2 linked regions of the Homo sapiens genome follow. The protein of the gene in region 2 purifies or fractionates together with the protein of the main gene of each other region. This does not show direct contact. Each region holds a gene or a part of one and is shown on either strand. Other genes may lie near its edges.

Evidence for each region.
Region 1: the proteins of SLC25A43 (region 2) and PROSER2 purify together in Homo sapiens (affinity purification with mass spectrometry; 2 studies listed by BioGRID and IntAct, with this or other methods). This does not show direct contact.

Annotation. Positions count from the first base shown.
Region 1 is NC_000010.11:11,818,456-11,826,355, reverse strand, and holds the start of PROSER2 (proline and serine-rich protein 2), read right to left. Parts: upstream 3,001-7,900; 5' UTR 2,886-3,000; intron 1-2,885.
Region 2 is NC_000023.11:119,395,412-119,402,398, reverse strand, and holds the start of SLC25A43 (solute carrier family 25 member 43), read right to left. Parts: upstream 3,064-6,987; 5' UTR 2,996-3,063; coding exon 2,721-2,995; intron 1-2,720.

The sequences.
Region 1 (7,900 bases), on a different chromosome or scaffold from region 2:
ACAAAAACTTGTACACAACGGTTCATAGCAGTACTATTCACAATAGCCAAAAGGTGGAAACAACCCAAAGTCATTCATCTGATGAATGGGTAAATAGAATGCGATCTGTCCACACAATGGAACATTATTCGGCGATAAAAAGGAGGGAAGCAACGATACACGCCGCGACACGGACGGACCTTGAAAAACATTGTGCTAAGTCAAAGACGCCAGACACAAGAGGCCACAGATTTTAAGATTCCATCTGTATAAACATCCAGAAGGGGCAAGTCTACCGAGACAGAAGGAGATCAGTGGCTGCCAGAGGTTGGGAGAGGGCAATGGGAATCGTCTGCTTAATGGGTTTCCTTTTGGAGTGATGAAAAAGTTCTGGAACTTGATAGTGGTGATGATTGCATAACATTGGGAATGGAATGTACTTAATGCCACTGATTTGTGCACTTTAAAGCGGTAAATTTTATGTTCTATGTATTTGACTATAATAAAAAAGATAAACAGCATGAACTCTTCACAGTGCTACAGTCTCTGGCAATACCTAGTCCGAAGAGACACGTTCACGAAGAGCTCTCCCATCCCTGTCCGACAAGGCAGAATGCTCTCCCCATACAGTCCTTCCCTGCCAATCCTGAATGCACAGATTAGAAACCTAGCACCAACTTTCTTAAAATACTCTTAGGTTTCAAGATGAATGCTGCCAGTCTAGAAAGGGGACAAGGGCATTATGGAAAGCGGCACCTTCACTGTGAGTTCCGCAGACAGAGGCTGTTGATGCCACTGGCTGGACATAACCCGTGCAGAGGGCAGTGCCTCCATGAACACAGGCTTTCCTATGGTGGCCAGGAGACCCCTCAGAGTGGAGCGGGGACGGCTGCAGTCAATCAGGGGCGGAGTTGCAAGGCCCTCTTCTTAGAGCACAGAGGCACCTAGGAAGCAAGCCACCAAGTGCAAAGGAAAGTGAAACGCAACGATGGCCTTCACCGTCAAAGGAAAGAGCTCAGGTTCTGGGATGCTCCTAGGATTCCCCTGGCACCTCCCGAATGGCCTCTGTGCCACCGGCAGCTGCCCCACAACACTGCAGATAAGATGCACTTGAACTTCTAAGTTCTAGAGGCTCCCCTGTTCTCAGCTCTGCTCTACGCAGGCCCTTCCTCTCTCCCCCTTCAGGTTTCCAGGCTCCACTCCTGGAGTTATCTGAGATGATCTTCCAAATCAACACACAGTGCCAACTCTGGGCGCCTTGGGTGTCTAAGAACTTTGGAACCAAGGCCAGGTATCTCTTCAGCTGCCGATGAAGGCTTGCTTGATCTGGTTTTAATCAGTTTGGGCCATGTGGCTGTTATCTAGAAATGACTGTATGCTGGACGACCAGTCACGGCTCTGCGCGCTGTAGGTGGTCAGTCTACAAATATTCCTGAATGAATTAATGGGCAACTCCCCCACCCCCGGCAACCACAGATTCAAACACGCTCAGACCTTCCTAAAAGCATCGCTCCTCTTTCCAGCCTTCGCTCCACTATATCACTCTAATTTTGGATTTCTGATTTCTAGTAATGGAGAAAATGTGTTACTTTTAAATCATCAGCATCTAAAATTTTCAAAGAAAGCTCATTTGAAGTGCTGTTACCAAGGAATATAATCCAGTCGCTTTAACATGGCTATTACTAGTCTGGACAAGAAAACACACAAGATTCCATACATACGCTGTCAACTTTGGCAAGAAAGATTTTAGACAACTTCCATCCTTCCCACCCAATCCCAAGTCAATAGGGCATTTGTTTGTATTTCCACATTGGCTTCATGAACGAAAATACCTCCTCCACCTAGAAAAACAATCAGTAACATTCAGACACGGAACTTGGAGGGCAAACTTTTTAGTGCATGCTGGGGCACTTTTATGTAGTGTTTTTAAAAAATAATGTAAAAAGTATTTTTAATAAAGTTTTCTCCTATGAGTATTTCCCTCAAGTTTCCACGTACGCCTGGTTTGGTCTTTCGATACCTTTCAGAAATACCGATTTTTAAAAAATGTTCTCCGTTAAAATTGGAGCCAGAAAGAACCTTCTTCCTACAGATCTGAACGTTTTACTCTGTTTAGGGTGGAAAAACACACACACACTCATTTTCCTTCACTCACTTTAACTTTTCTGCTCTGCACGCACTAGGTTCTGGTAGAGTTAAAAGTTTTCTGAGGTTAGTTCCTGTGGTTAAGGAAAAAAAAAATACACCAAACAACTACATGCTTAAATTTAGACTCCGTAAAACAATACTGGGAAACTTTCAAAGCCTTGGAGAAATACTGGAGTTTATTTTACTGCCTTTTGTTCAATTTCATCACACGGGCCACATTTTCTCCTCTATTTTAGTCCCTCCCGCCGCGCTGGGCTGGGCAGACCCTGCACATCCCCGCGTGATTCCAGGACCTGGGGGCCCGGGTGGAACAGGTGGCTCCGCCCGCCGTGTCGGACCCGCACCCTCTCCCCGAGGCCGCATGGGGTCCCACGGCGCAAAGGACAGGGGTCCCGGGTTGGGGGACGGACGGTGGGGACAGCGGGGACCCTCTGCGCCCAAGGCTGGGAAACCCGCCTCCACCCCTGAGCCCCCAGGATAGCCCCAGACTCGGAACCCAGCGCGCTCCCCGCCGCGCCCCGACTCCGAGGTCCCCGAGGAGGCAGCGACGCCCCGGGGTCGGGGGTCGGGCACCGGGTGGCCTCTGCGGCGGCGGCGCCGGGCTCCCCTAGTCAGAGCGAGGAGCGCGCCAAGGCAGGGTCCGGCGCCCCCTCTCTGCCCGACCCGCCGGCGTCCCAGCCAGAGCCCAGCGCCGCCACCGCCGCCAGGACGCCCTCCCGTCGCTCCAGCCCTGCCCGGAGTCCTAGGGCCCCACTCACCTCGCGGGAGACCCCTACCCCGGGACTCAGGTGTCCACGCCGCCAGCGACCCGGAGCCCTCACGCCGCCGCCCGTCTGGCGCAGACTGTTCCGGGACGCCCCGCCGCGCGCTCTCCCTGTGCGCGCCCACCCGCGCGCGCTCTACTGCCGCCGCGCGCTCGCGCCGCCCGAACTCGCACTCCTTAGGCACGCACTGCGCGCGCCCGCGGCGCTTAAAGGGCCGGGCCCCGCCGCGCTGGGGGACCTCGCGGCCGCCTCCCGGGGGTCCTCGGTCAAGGTGTGAAGTTCGAGTTGGGGGACAGCACCGTGAAAATCCCCAACCCCATCGCCGAGCGACCCACGCGGAGAAAAGCAATAGGGATGTGTGTCTGAAGCTTGCAAGAGATGGGACATTAATTTAATCTAATTTTTATTGAGACAGGGTCTTGCTGTGTCGCCCAGGCTGGAGTGCACGTTGTACCATCTTGGCTCACTGCAACCTCCACCTCCCAAGTTCAAGTGATACTCGCATCTCAGCCTCCCGAGTAGCTGGTACCACAGGTGCATGCCACCACACCCAGCTAATTTTAAAATTTTTTGTAGAGATGGGTGGGTGGGGGGGGGGGTCTCATTATATCGCCCAGGCTGGTCTCGAACTCCTGGGCTCACGCGATCCTCTCACTTCAGCCTCCCAAAGTGCTGGGATTACAGGCCTGAGCCACTGCACCTGGCCTTTAATTTTTTCTTTTGTTTTTTATTATGGTCAGCTTTGAGAGGCTATTTTATACTTAATAATGCTGATGCAACTTATTGCATACCTGTACCCTCAGACACAGCATTTAATGTGCATACACCACATACATTATTTCATCTAATCCTTAAAATGGTTTTCTGGTTTCTTAACCCCATTTTACAGAGCAGGAAAGCTGAGGTTCAGACAGCTGAAGAAACTCATGGGAGAATTTTTGACCCCATGGCTCGTTGCATTTTCTTCTTCAGGCTATCACCGTGGAAATATCTCCGAAGGTTAATAGCTGGTTGCGGAAGGCTTTTGTAAGTTGGTGGAAGTTAATGTTACTGGGTTTAACTCAGTAGGCAGGGAGAAAGCAAGAGTTATGGGGTTGTATTAATTGTAGGATTTGTTATATACTCAAATGACAAACGTTGTAACAACCTAGATTCCCAAAATGTTTGTGTTGCTTCCCATTTTACAGAAAACTAAGAAGGAAATGGTTGCACAGAATGACTGAGTCACTGGCCCCACTCAGGGTTGAGCCCCAATGCCTTAGTCCTGAGGTCATTTCTTTGCCCTCCCCAGAAAGAGATACCTGATTAAAGGGAAGAAAACTTTTCCTCTAATAACACATTGGCCTCACCTAACTCCCTGCATCTTTAATTAATGTTTACAAAGCACTTTAATCTACCCAACATGCTACTTAATTGGGTCAGTATTATTATCCTCTCTTTCTGAACAAAATCCAGGAGACAATCAACTCTGACAATCCTTAATCCTCAGTGAATAATAAACCTAAGCTTTCTGGTTATGTTCTTTTATTTTCCCTCTTACATTTTTGTCTCATGTTGTGTTAAATATGAACGCATTTATCATGAAGTGACATAATAAATGGTAATATTAAACATCTACCTATAGGTGACAGGTAATATAGCAGCTGCTGTCTTTAAGGAATTCATTTTATTTTATTTTTTGAGACAGGGCCTGGTTCTGTTGCCCAGGCTAGAGTGCAGTGGTGAAATTGTAGCTTACTGCAGCCTCCAACTCCTGGGCTCAAGTGATTCTCCTGCCTCAGCCTCCCAAGCTGGGACTCCAGGCACGAACCATTATGCCTGGCTAATTTTTTATTTTTCTTTTTGTAGAGACAGGGTCTAATTCTCACGGTAGTCCCAAACTTCTGGGCTCAAGTGATCCTCTCCCCTGGGCCGCTCAAAGTGCTGGGATTAAAGGCATGAGCCACCACGCCCGGCCCTTTAAGGAAATCAGATCAAGAGAAAAAAAAAACTTTCCCTTGATTTTGATAAATGATAATTTTGATAAATGTTGATAAATGCTTCCTAGAATTATTTTTCTTTTTATTATTCTTTTTGCTTGGTTAAACTTTTATGGTGCCTTTTCTTACAGTTGAAAAAGAAATGAGAGGGATGAGATTGAAGGATGATGGGGTTGGCAAGGAAGAAGGGGAAAAGAAAAAGGCAGAAAAATAGAAGCAGAAAATAAACAAGGAAGAAAATGAGACTGAGAAGGCTTCAACCAACAGGCAGTTAGGGATGTGAGGCCAGCCCCTGCTAGCATGTCCTAAATCTTTATGGGAATTATGATCAGGTGGCCCTCCTGTGGCCTGGCACAGACCTGGCCAGAAAGTTAGCTCAGGCTGGTCCACTGCCCTGATGTCCCCCTGGCCTATGCACCTTTATGACAACTGAATGCACAAAGGGACTAAAAAGTGAGAAAGGACAGTGAAGCCAGGTCAGAGGAAAAGAAATGGTTTACAGGGGGAAATTTAAAGATGGTTATTTGGCCAGGCCCGGTGGCTCATGCCTGTAATCCCATCACTTTGGGAAGCCAAGGTAAGCGGATCACCCGAGGTCAGGAGTTCGAGACTAGCCTGGCCAACATGGCGAAATCCCATCTCTACCAAAAATACAAAAATTAGCTGGGCGTGGTGGCACATGCCTGTAATACCAGCTACTCAGGAGGCTGAGCTAGGAGAGTTGCTTGAACCCAGGAGGTGGAGGTTGCAGTGAGCCGAGATTGCGCCACTGCACTCCAGACTAGGTGACAGGGTCTGTCTCAAAAATAACTAAATAAAGATAGTTATTTATGAAAGTACTTAGATAATGTCCATAGGAAAAGAAATGAACAAAGAAATATCTGGAGGGTCTTTGTATTGTTACAGTTTTAAAACTTATGAAATTTTTAAAATTTCACTGTAATGTCACTTGACTTTTTCATAAATGTTTTCTGAGGCTGGTCTTTGCTAAGAAAATCCTGATAATACATGACCCCCAAATATTAAAGAAATATTAATGAACTTTATATAGGTTAAGAATTTTAAAGTAAGCTAAAAAGAAAAGCTATGTCTTTTCATGTTATAAAGGAGTATATTAATTACTGTATAAAATTGACTTCAGAGCCAGGCGCAGTGGCTCATGCCTGTAATCCCAGCACTTTGGGAGGCCGAGGCGGGTGGATCACGAGGTCAGGAGATCGAGACCATCCTGGCTAACACGGTGAACCCCATCTCTACTAAAAATACAAAAAATTAGCCAGGCGTGGTGGCGGGCGCCTTGTAGTCCCAGCTACTCCGGAGGCTGAGGCAGGAGAATGGCGTGAACCCGGGAGGCGGAGCTTGCAGTGAGCAGAGATCGCGCCACTGCACTCCAGCCTGGGCAACAGAGCGAGACTCCGTCTCAAAAATAAATAAATAAATAAATAGACTTCAGAAACTGTACTATATTGTAATATATATCATGACCACTAGAGGGAGGCAGACAGGAAAGGAGAAAGAAAGGTAAGAAAATTTCATAACTTTACTAAAAAATCGACAGCAGTTTGGATCTGACAGGGGAGATGTAAAAGACATGATTTGTTATTACCTCAAGCTGTTTATCCTTTTTGAGCCTCAGTTCCTCATCTATATAATGAGGCTATTAACGCCTACCCTGTAAGGCTAAAATGAAAGTATTTTAAAGTGTATCTGAACAAATTGAACAAATGATAGGTGAGAAAAGTTAACAAAATTAAGAAAATGAAGAAAAATATGGGCAATTGACCTATTTATTATTGAAACATAGTCTAAGGCTTTACTGATGAAATGTATCATAATAGAACAATATAACCCAGGAAAAGGTAGTGTACACTTTCATATGTGATAAAAGTCATCAAAAATAAATGAAAAAGAGATGGAGTCTCAATAAATGGAGGTAAGAAACGTAGTAATTTGAAAAGATAATCAAGTTAAGCCCTTACCTGTCATTATATGCTGAAAGATGTTCTAGCTACATTAAATAATTTTAAGGTCTAGCGTGGTGTCTCACACCTGTAATCCCAGCACTTTGGGAGGCTGAGGCAGGAGGATTGCTTGAGCCCAGAATTTCAAGACCAGCTTGAGCAACATAATGAGACCCCCGTCTCCACAAAAAAATACAAAAATTACCCAGATGTGGTAGTGCATGCCTTTAGTCCCAGCAGCTCACAAGGCTGAGATGGGAGGATCACCTAAGCCTGGGGGCGTTGAGGCTGCAGTGAGCTGTGATTGCGCCACTGCACTCCAGGTTGGAGGCAGAGAGAGATCCTGTCTCAAAAAAACAAAAAAAAATTTTAAAATTAGGGGAACATATAGGCAAATATTTATGTGATCTCAAGGTGAGGAAAGAAAAGAAACAGAATACTCAGGAAGGAAATGACCATTAGATTAGATTACATAAAAATTTTTAAAATTCTGGTAACTAAAAATATTGCAAACAGAATTCTAAAAGACAAAAAAAAATCTGAAATGACAGAACTCTGCATAACAAATCCAAGATTTAATTGCATCTTTAGGAGTACACACAGATTAATAAGAAAACCCTAATAAGTCTGTGGGAAAATTTCCTTAAAGAGAAAATTAAAGTGGTTAGTAATTAGCCATGCGTATATCTGTGTAAGTGTGTGTTATTATATTTTAAAGGGTTTAGGTTACCTAGTAATTTAAAAAATAAAAATGTTAAATAATACACAATATTCTCACCTTATAAATTAGAAAATATATTTCAGGTTCTAATATTCAATGCTGGCAGGAGTGCAAAGAAATGGGCAATTTTATTTATTTATTTATTTAGAGATGGAGTCTTGCTCTGTCCCCCAGGCTGCAGCGCAGTAGTGCTATCTCAGCTCACTACAACCTCAGCCTCCCAGGTTCAAGCGATTCTCCTGTCTCAGCCTCCTGAGTAACTGGGACTACAGGCGTGCACCACCACGCCCGGCTAATTTTTTGTATTTTTAGTAGAGATGGGGTTTCACCATGTTGGCTAAGCTGGTC
Region 2 (6,987 bases):
TACAATAACCTAGCTCCCAACAGACTACTGAGTGGACTCTTGATCGTCAATCCAACTAAGCAGATATTTCTGCTGTGCAATGGTAGACAGAGACCTGAACTAAGGAGCCAGAAGACTTGGCTTCAAGTTCCAGCTCTTCCATTAATTGCATTTGTGGACAAGTCACTTAACTACCCCATTCCCTGAACATTCTGGATGTTTATGTTTTGTTCAAACCCATGATCACAGGCCCCCAGCCAACTGTTTTGCAAATTCATGGTCAGAAAAGAGTAGAAATGAATCAGTATAATGATGAATCAAGAGTATCATGTTGATGTAGGAAGGATGGCATCGCGATTAATCAAACACTTTGCTTTCCAACTATGCCTTGCCATTCACCAAAATACTTCCTTTTAGTTTTCAGAAAGAAAATAATCCTGTAGGGGAAAAAAAATTCCTAGCAAACCTAGCCCAGGTAAGTCTCTGTTCTCGTTCTCCCAGACATCTCCTCCTCTCTGCTCCCATGGTCACCTATTGCCGGTGCCCTCAGCTGCTATGTGGACTAGTGCAACAGGTTCCTAACTGGCCCTGCTGTCTCCACTCTTCCTCCTCTCTAGTCATCTTACTCTGCCACGATGTGACGATCATTTCCATTGAATTGCTTTAATCACAACACACCTCCCCCCACCCCCCACAAAAACCTCCCACAGCTACCCTTGGATACCAAGTCAAGTCCAAATCCCTTAATCCAACCCTCTAATATCTCATTCCAACCTGCTTTTCTGGTTGGACTTCCTGTTGTGCTGCTTGCCTTCCCACCTCTGTGCATTTGCTGACATCAACTGCAGTATCTTTCTCTCCATCTCTGCCCAGCAGACTCCTCATTCTCCCAATGCCAAACTCAAATTTTTTTCTCCTCTATGAAGTCTTCACATTTTCTCCTCCTCATCGCTCATCAGAAGGGTACATTTCTAGAGCACATTATCCATGACAATCACATGCTACCTTGTGTGTTATGGTCATGGACATATTAGTCTTACTCTTCTATTACTCTGTAAGCTCCTGGGGCACAGGGACCATGCCCCTTCCATCCTGGCATTGTCCTCAGCATCGTGCACACAGTGGGGACTTAATGTAGCCTGACTAAATTAGTGTCAAATGGATGCAGGGAGGCAGCATGATGTAACAGAAAGACTATGAGATTTGGAGTCAGAAGGCCAGGTAGTGGAGCTCAGCTCGGTCACTGACAAGAGGTGTCATCACTCTGAGCCCAATTCTGCATCTGTAAAACAGGCACAATGCTTCCTGTCCTATGGACCTTACAGGGCAGGAGGCAGGAGCTTAAAAAATCTAATGTGCATATACTAGGTGCTTAGCAGAAGAGCCACAATACTTAAACCAGCCTTTGAAGTTCTGCCCCCCACCCCTCTGGACATATTTTATCCCATCCAAAGGAAGATTTCCACACTACTTTGTAGAGAAGAGGGTGAAGTGGGGGAGAAACTGAGTCATTAAGACTCAGAGGAGAACTGTTTACAGACTGCAGGCCAGATGTTGATGAGGGCAAGCAGAGGTGGGGAGGAAAAAGGGCCTTAACTAAATGTCATGGTCCCACCCATGAGTCCCTCTGCAGAGGAAGAGAAGGGAACTCTATTTCCAGGCAGAGGCAAAATGAGTACTGGCCTAGAGGCCTAGGTAATAAGGATGATTCCGTTCGGCTTGTCGGCTGCCAGGTGAGCCTTCCACCTCTGGCCTCCCAGGTGAGTGACAGTGTCAAGGCAAAATCCTTTGACTATTAGCCGCCAAGACTAAACTATGCGGTCAAGACCGACTCTCCCAAATGTGGGCTGTTTGTCTAATTCAGAGCCAAGGCGATATCAAAGATGCCACTGTGCCCACTGAATGAGGAACACAGGGACCGTCCCCCCAATACAGAAACATCTCTGCTTCCTGAAATGCCATCACTACCAATTCATTCTTTCAGGCTTGGTTTCCAGTTCAAATGCAGGTACCTCTGAGCTCGGTGGAAGCTTTAAGGCTGCATTTACACCTTTAGATCTTTTCCTAAGGAGCAGCTGTTGATGTGGGAGAAGGTGGAAAAGGCCCAAATAAATGAGGCCAGTGGGGTGAAGCGGTAGGCTGAGGGGGCCGTTCTCAGCTTGGGGAGGGGAAGCTGCAGCCTCTGTCGGAGCCTGAAGTCAAGCTTCATTTAAGTTGGGGAGATGTGTGGGCAAAAATCTGCGGCCTTTTCGTATCGATGGATCGGGTCCTTTCCCCACACCAAGCACTTTCTTCTCGGGGCTTGGGTCACACAGACAAAAACACCTTTAAAAGGGTCTCTCTCTTCCTAAGCCAGCCTAAGCAAAAGTTTCCAAATTGGAGGACGGTGGAAATGGTTAGGACTCATCTCTCTGGAGAGCTTTTCATTCCTTTCCTCCAAATCCTTTGCTGCATTCCACCTCCTCGCCCGGTCCAATCCGGAAAGCCTCTCGGACCAGGGCTGCGGACCACAAAACTGCATCTTGCAGGGCGGTAACCCCAAGAGAACGTGAAAAGCATTGGGGCTGCACTCTGGGGGCCATAGAGGTGGCCCACCGCCCCGAGGGGTCCCCAGGTGATCGACAAGGGGGCCGTCCCTACTCCAGGGCCCCGAGTCCAGGCAGCAGGGCGGCGTCGGGCCGCGGCTCCCCCACCCCACCCCCGTCCGGTCTCCCGGTTCCCCGGCCCCGCCCGGCTCTTACTTGCGGTAGGCGGCGAGCTGCACGGCGCTGCAGGGGAAGAGGCGCAGGCACGCCACCGCGTTCCCCTTCCACAGGGCCCGGAGCCCCTCTGCCCGCCACACCCGGTGCCCTGTGGCCCACGGTCCCCGGGCGTGGCCTCGCACGACGCCAACCTGGGCCAGCACGGTGGCGAGCTCCAGGGGCGCGGTGAGGCTGAGGCTGAGCGTCCCCGCCAGCCCAGCGCACAGCAGCCTTTGGCCGCCTGTCAGTCGGCCGTCCCGCCTCCACGTAGCCATCGAGCCCCGACCCGGGCCCGGAAGACCGCGTGGCTCGGGCCTGGGGCTCTCCGGCCACGGGCGGAGGTGGCGGGCCCCAGGCCCCGCCCGGCATGGGGCGGGCCCGCGTGAGGGACGGGAAGCCCCGTCTACGCCCTAGCCTGGCCCGAGGCTGGTCGGGGGTGGGGCGCGAGGGCCTGGAGGGTCCGGGGTCCGAGGCCGCGGATATCATGGGCATAGTCTCCCCAGTTGGCAAGGCTCGAGTAGCGACTTTCAGTTGCGAAACAGTTACTGTTCTCTCAAGGCCCAGCCTGCTAGACATCTTGCTTCCTAAATGTTCAGTGCGCCCCCGCCGCCCCTCCCTGCCTCTCCTCTGGTTTGCCCCTTTTCTCCCTTTCACGTGCCACTTCTCTGTCTTCCTCCCCTGGCGCTTCCCTCCTCCTCCTCTTGCCTCCAACCCATTTTTTTTTCCTGCCTAACCAAAAAGCCTTGATGGTTTCCCAGTGCAGAAGGTAAAAAATTCTAACAACCACAGTTGCTATCTCTCAGGCACTTGTCAAGTACTGGGCTTTACAGACGTTCTCATGTAATCCTCAAAACGGCCCTAAGTACGTATGTCCTCATTGACAGAGGCTGTGTGGGTGTGGGGACTTGAATCTGGACTCTTGAACCTGTGTAAGATTCTTGGCTCTGCAGCTTACCAGCTGTGGGACCTTGGGGAAGTCACTCAACCTCTCTGTGTGTCAGTTGCTTTATAAAACAGAGATTATAATTTTTTCCTCCTAGGGGTTGTTGTAAGGATTAATGAACAATGACTGGTATGGGTAAGCAGTTTATATGTGTTAGTTCTGATTAGGTATTCATTTACAGGAGAGGAAACCAAGACACAGAGAGGACTTGCTCAGGCTCACACAGCTACCTACAAAGCAGAGACCGGTTTGAAATCTAGGGCGGTTTATGTCAGTTTCCACTAACGGCTACACTATATGTCTACTAGGACTGCAGAGTTAACTCCAGTAGGGACATTTTCAGTGGTTCTGTAAGCTAAGAGAACAATAGAGGCAAAGAATGGCTAAGAGAGGCTTGGCCAGAATCCGAGGATTCTTTAATCAGTTCAAAAATTTCAGAATTTCAGAATTTCTTTCTGTCTCTTTTTTTTCTAAAAAAGCCATGTCACTAATAATTACAAGGAAAGGAACTGTCAGCAGTCTGTTGGTGTGAGCAAGATGTTCCGGGTACATAGTTGTTTTTAGGCTTGTATAGTTATTTACATTTACTAACACACAATGCTATAGGAACGTTTTCTAAAAGGCATTGCAGGGTTTCTCCTTTTTTATTTTTCACTGTCAATCTCACTTGAGTATGACATTACAAGGTTTTGACTGTGAGAACTTGTTCTAGTTGCAGAAGCCATACTCTGCTCTCAACAATTGGGGAATGCTTATTTTCATGTTTTGTGAATTCTTCTGTCTTGTTGTAAGCTAATTTGATGGCTGGGGGAAGCTTGAGAAAGATGTATGACTCTGAAGACCGGAGGACCCCGACTTTAAAAGGGCTTGAATTGGAATTTGGGGATTACAATAAGGAAACCTTCGGGTACTGGTACTTCCTAAAGCCCTTTGTTGGATAACGGGACAAGATTCTAAAGCTCTTTCAGGAAGTTCGTGGGTCTGGAACATTTCATGTGATAACCCCATTGTATGGAGATTGGGTCAGCCAAGTTATGTTTTTTTTTTTTTTGAGACAGAGTCTCGCTCTGTCGCCCAGGGTGAAGTGCAGTGGCATGGTCTTGGCTCACTGTAACCTCTGCCTCCTAGGTTCAAGCGATTCTCCTGCCTCAGCCTCCTAAGTAGCTGGGACTACAGGCATGTGCCACCATACCCAACTAATTTTTTTGTATTTTCAGTAGAGATGGGGTTCGCCATGTTGGCCAGGCTGGTCTCGAATTCCTGACCTCAGATGATCCACCTGCCTCGGCCTCCCAAAGTGCCGAAATTACAGGCATGAGCCACCGCGCCTGGCCTATTTTAACCTTGAAAGTAAAATGTATGGCCGGGCGCGGTGGCTCACGCCTATAATCCCAGCACTTTGGGAGGCTGAGGCGGGCGGATCACGAGGTCAGGAGATCGAGACCATCCTGGCTAACACGGTGAAACCCCGTCTCTACTGAAAATACAAAAAATTAGCCGGGCGAGGTGGCGGGCGCCTGTAGTCCCACCTACTTGGGAGGCTGAGGCAGGAGAATGGCGTGAACCCTGGAGGGCGGAGCCTGCAGTGAGCCGAGATCACGCCACTGCACTCCAGCCTGGGTGACAGCGAGACTCCGTCTCAAAAAAAAAGAAAGTAAAATGTATATTTTTCACTGCAGGTACACTGAAGCATAAAATGAATAACACCAAACTATATATTGGATGCCTTCTGTCTTTTCATGATCATGTGCTAACCAGGTGTTCATATTTTACTCAGCCAGAGTCTCATTCATCTGCTTAGCATTGGGCACCTTATGTATATTCATCCTAAACATAAATAAATCTCCGAGGATATCCTGTATTTGGATTGTGACTTGTATACTCAAGCCAACCTTATTGCCTCTTTTTCACACTTGTTGAAAAGTCTGTGGAGAGCATAGTAGGTTAACAAGCTCCAACTTTGGAAAATGTACATGATGTGAAATTGGGGTGCTATGCTAAAAATAAATGTATGATAACTAAAAAGGAAGAGGCAGTGAGTAAAAAAAAAAATCTTAGAAGTTATGTTGCAATATAAGGAGAAAGGTGGCCAGCTGAGAGTTAAGCCCTAGGCAGCCTCTCGTTGCCCCAGTCAGGGCTTGGGAGATGCTAACAGTTTTTTAAATTCTCCAGCTTTCATTTTTCAGTTTATCTTCTCACCAACTGAAATCTCTCAGTACATTACTTTAGTTTAACTTGCTAGTATTTCTTAGAATATAATTTATCTTGTTATATTTATACTAATGTTGATTGATTCCTGCTCTCCTAATTTTCTTTTATTTTTTACTTTTTGGGAAATTTGTAAATTATAAAGTAGTTTATACCTGTTGTAACAAGACAAATAGTCCAGAAGTGTATTAAAGAAAGTTAAGTTCCCCTGCCCATGCCCTGAGGTAACCACGGTTAAGAGCTTGGTGCGTGTGTGAATGTTTTTCCTCATATTTTTTTTTCATGCTCAGACCAATAAATATTTATATGGGGTTGCTTTCTCCTCCTTTCCGCTCTTCCCTCCTTCTTACCTTCCTTCTTTCCTTCCTTTGAAACAGAAAAGAAATAATTCCTCTGGAAGGATACCCAAAAAACTGATAATCAGGTTATCTTTGGGGAAGGAAACCTGGAGACTTGGGAACAGAGGTGGAAGGGAGATTGAGTTTTGACTGTGTGCCCTTTTATTTTCTTTTATTATTTATTGATTTATTTAGTTAGTTTTGAGACAGAGTCTCGCTCTGTTGCCCAGGCTGGAGTACAGTGGCACGATCTCAGCTCACTGCAACCTCTGCCTCCCAGGTTCAAGCAATTCTCATGCCTCCCCAGTAGCTGGGACTACAAGCAGCCACCACCTCACCAATCTAATTTTTTTTTTTTTTTTTTTTTGAGACGGAGTCTTGCTCTGTCACCCAGGCTGGAGTGCAGTGGCGCAATCTTGGCTCACTGCAAGCTCCGCCTCACAGGTTCATGCCATTGTCCTGCCTCAGCCTTCAGAGTAGCTGGGACTACAGACGCCCGCCACCGCACCTGGCTAATTTTTTTGCATTTTTAGTAAAGACGGGGTTTCACCGTGTTAGCCAGGAGGGTCTCTATCTCCCGACCTCGTGATCCACCTGCCTTGGCCTCCCAAAGTGCTGGGATTACAGGCATGAGCCACCGTGCCCGGCCCTAATTTTTGTATTTTTAGTACAGACGGAATTTCACCATGTTGGCCAGGCTGGTCTCAAACTACTGACCTCAAGTGATCTGCCCCCTTTGGCCTCCCAAGGTGCCAGGATTACAGGCGTGAGCCACCGC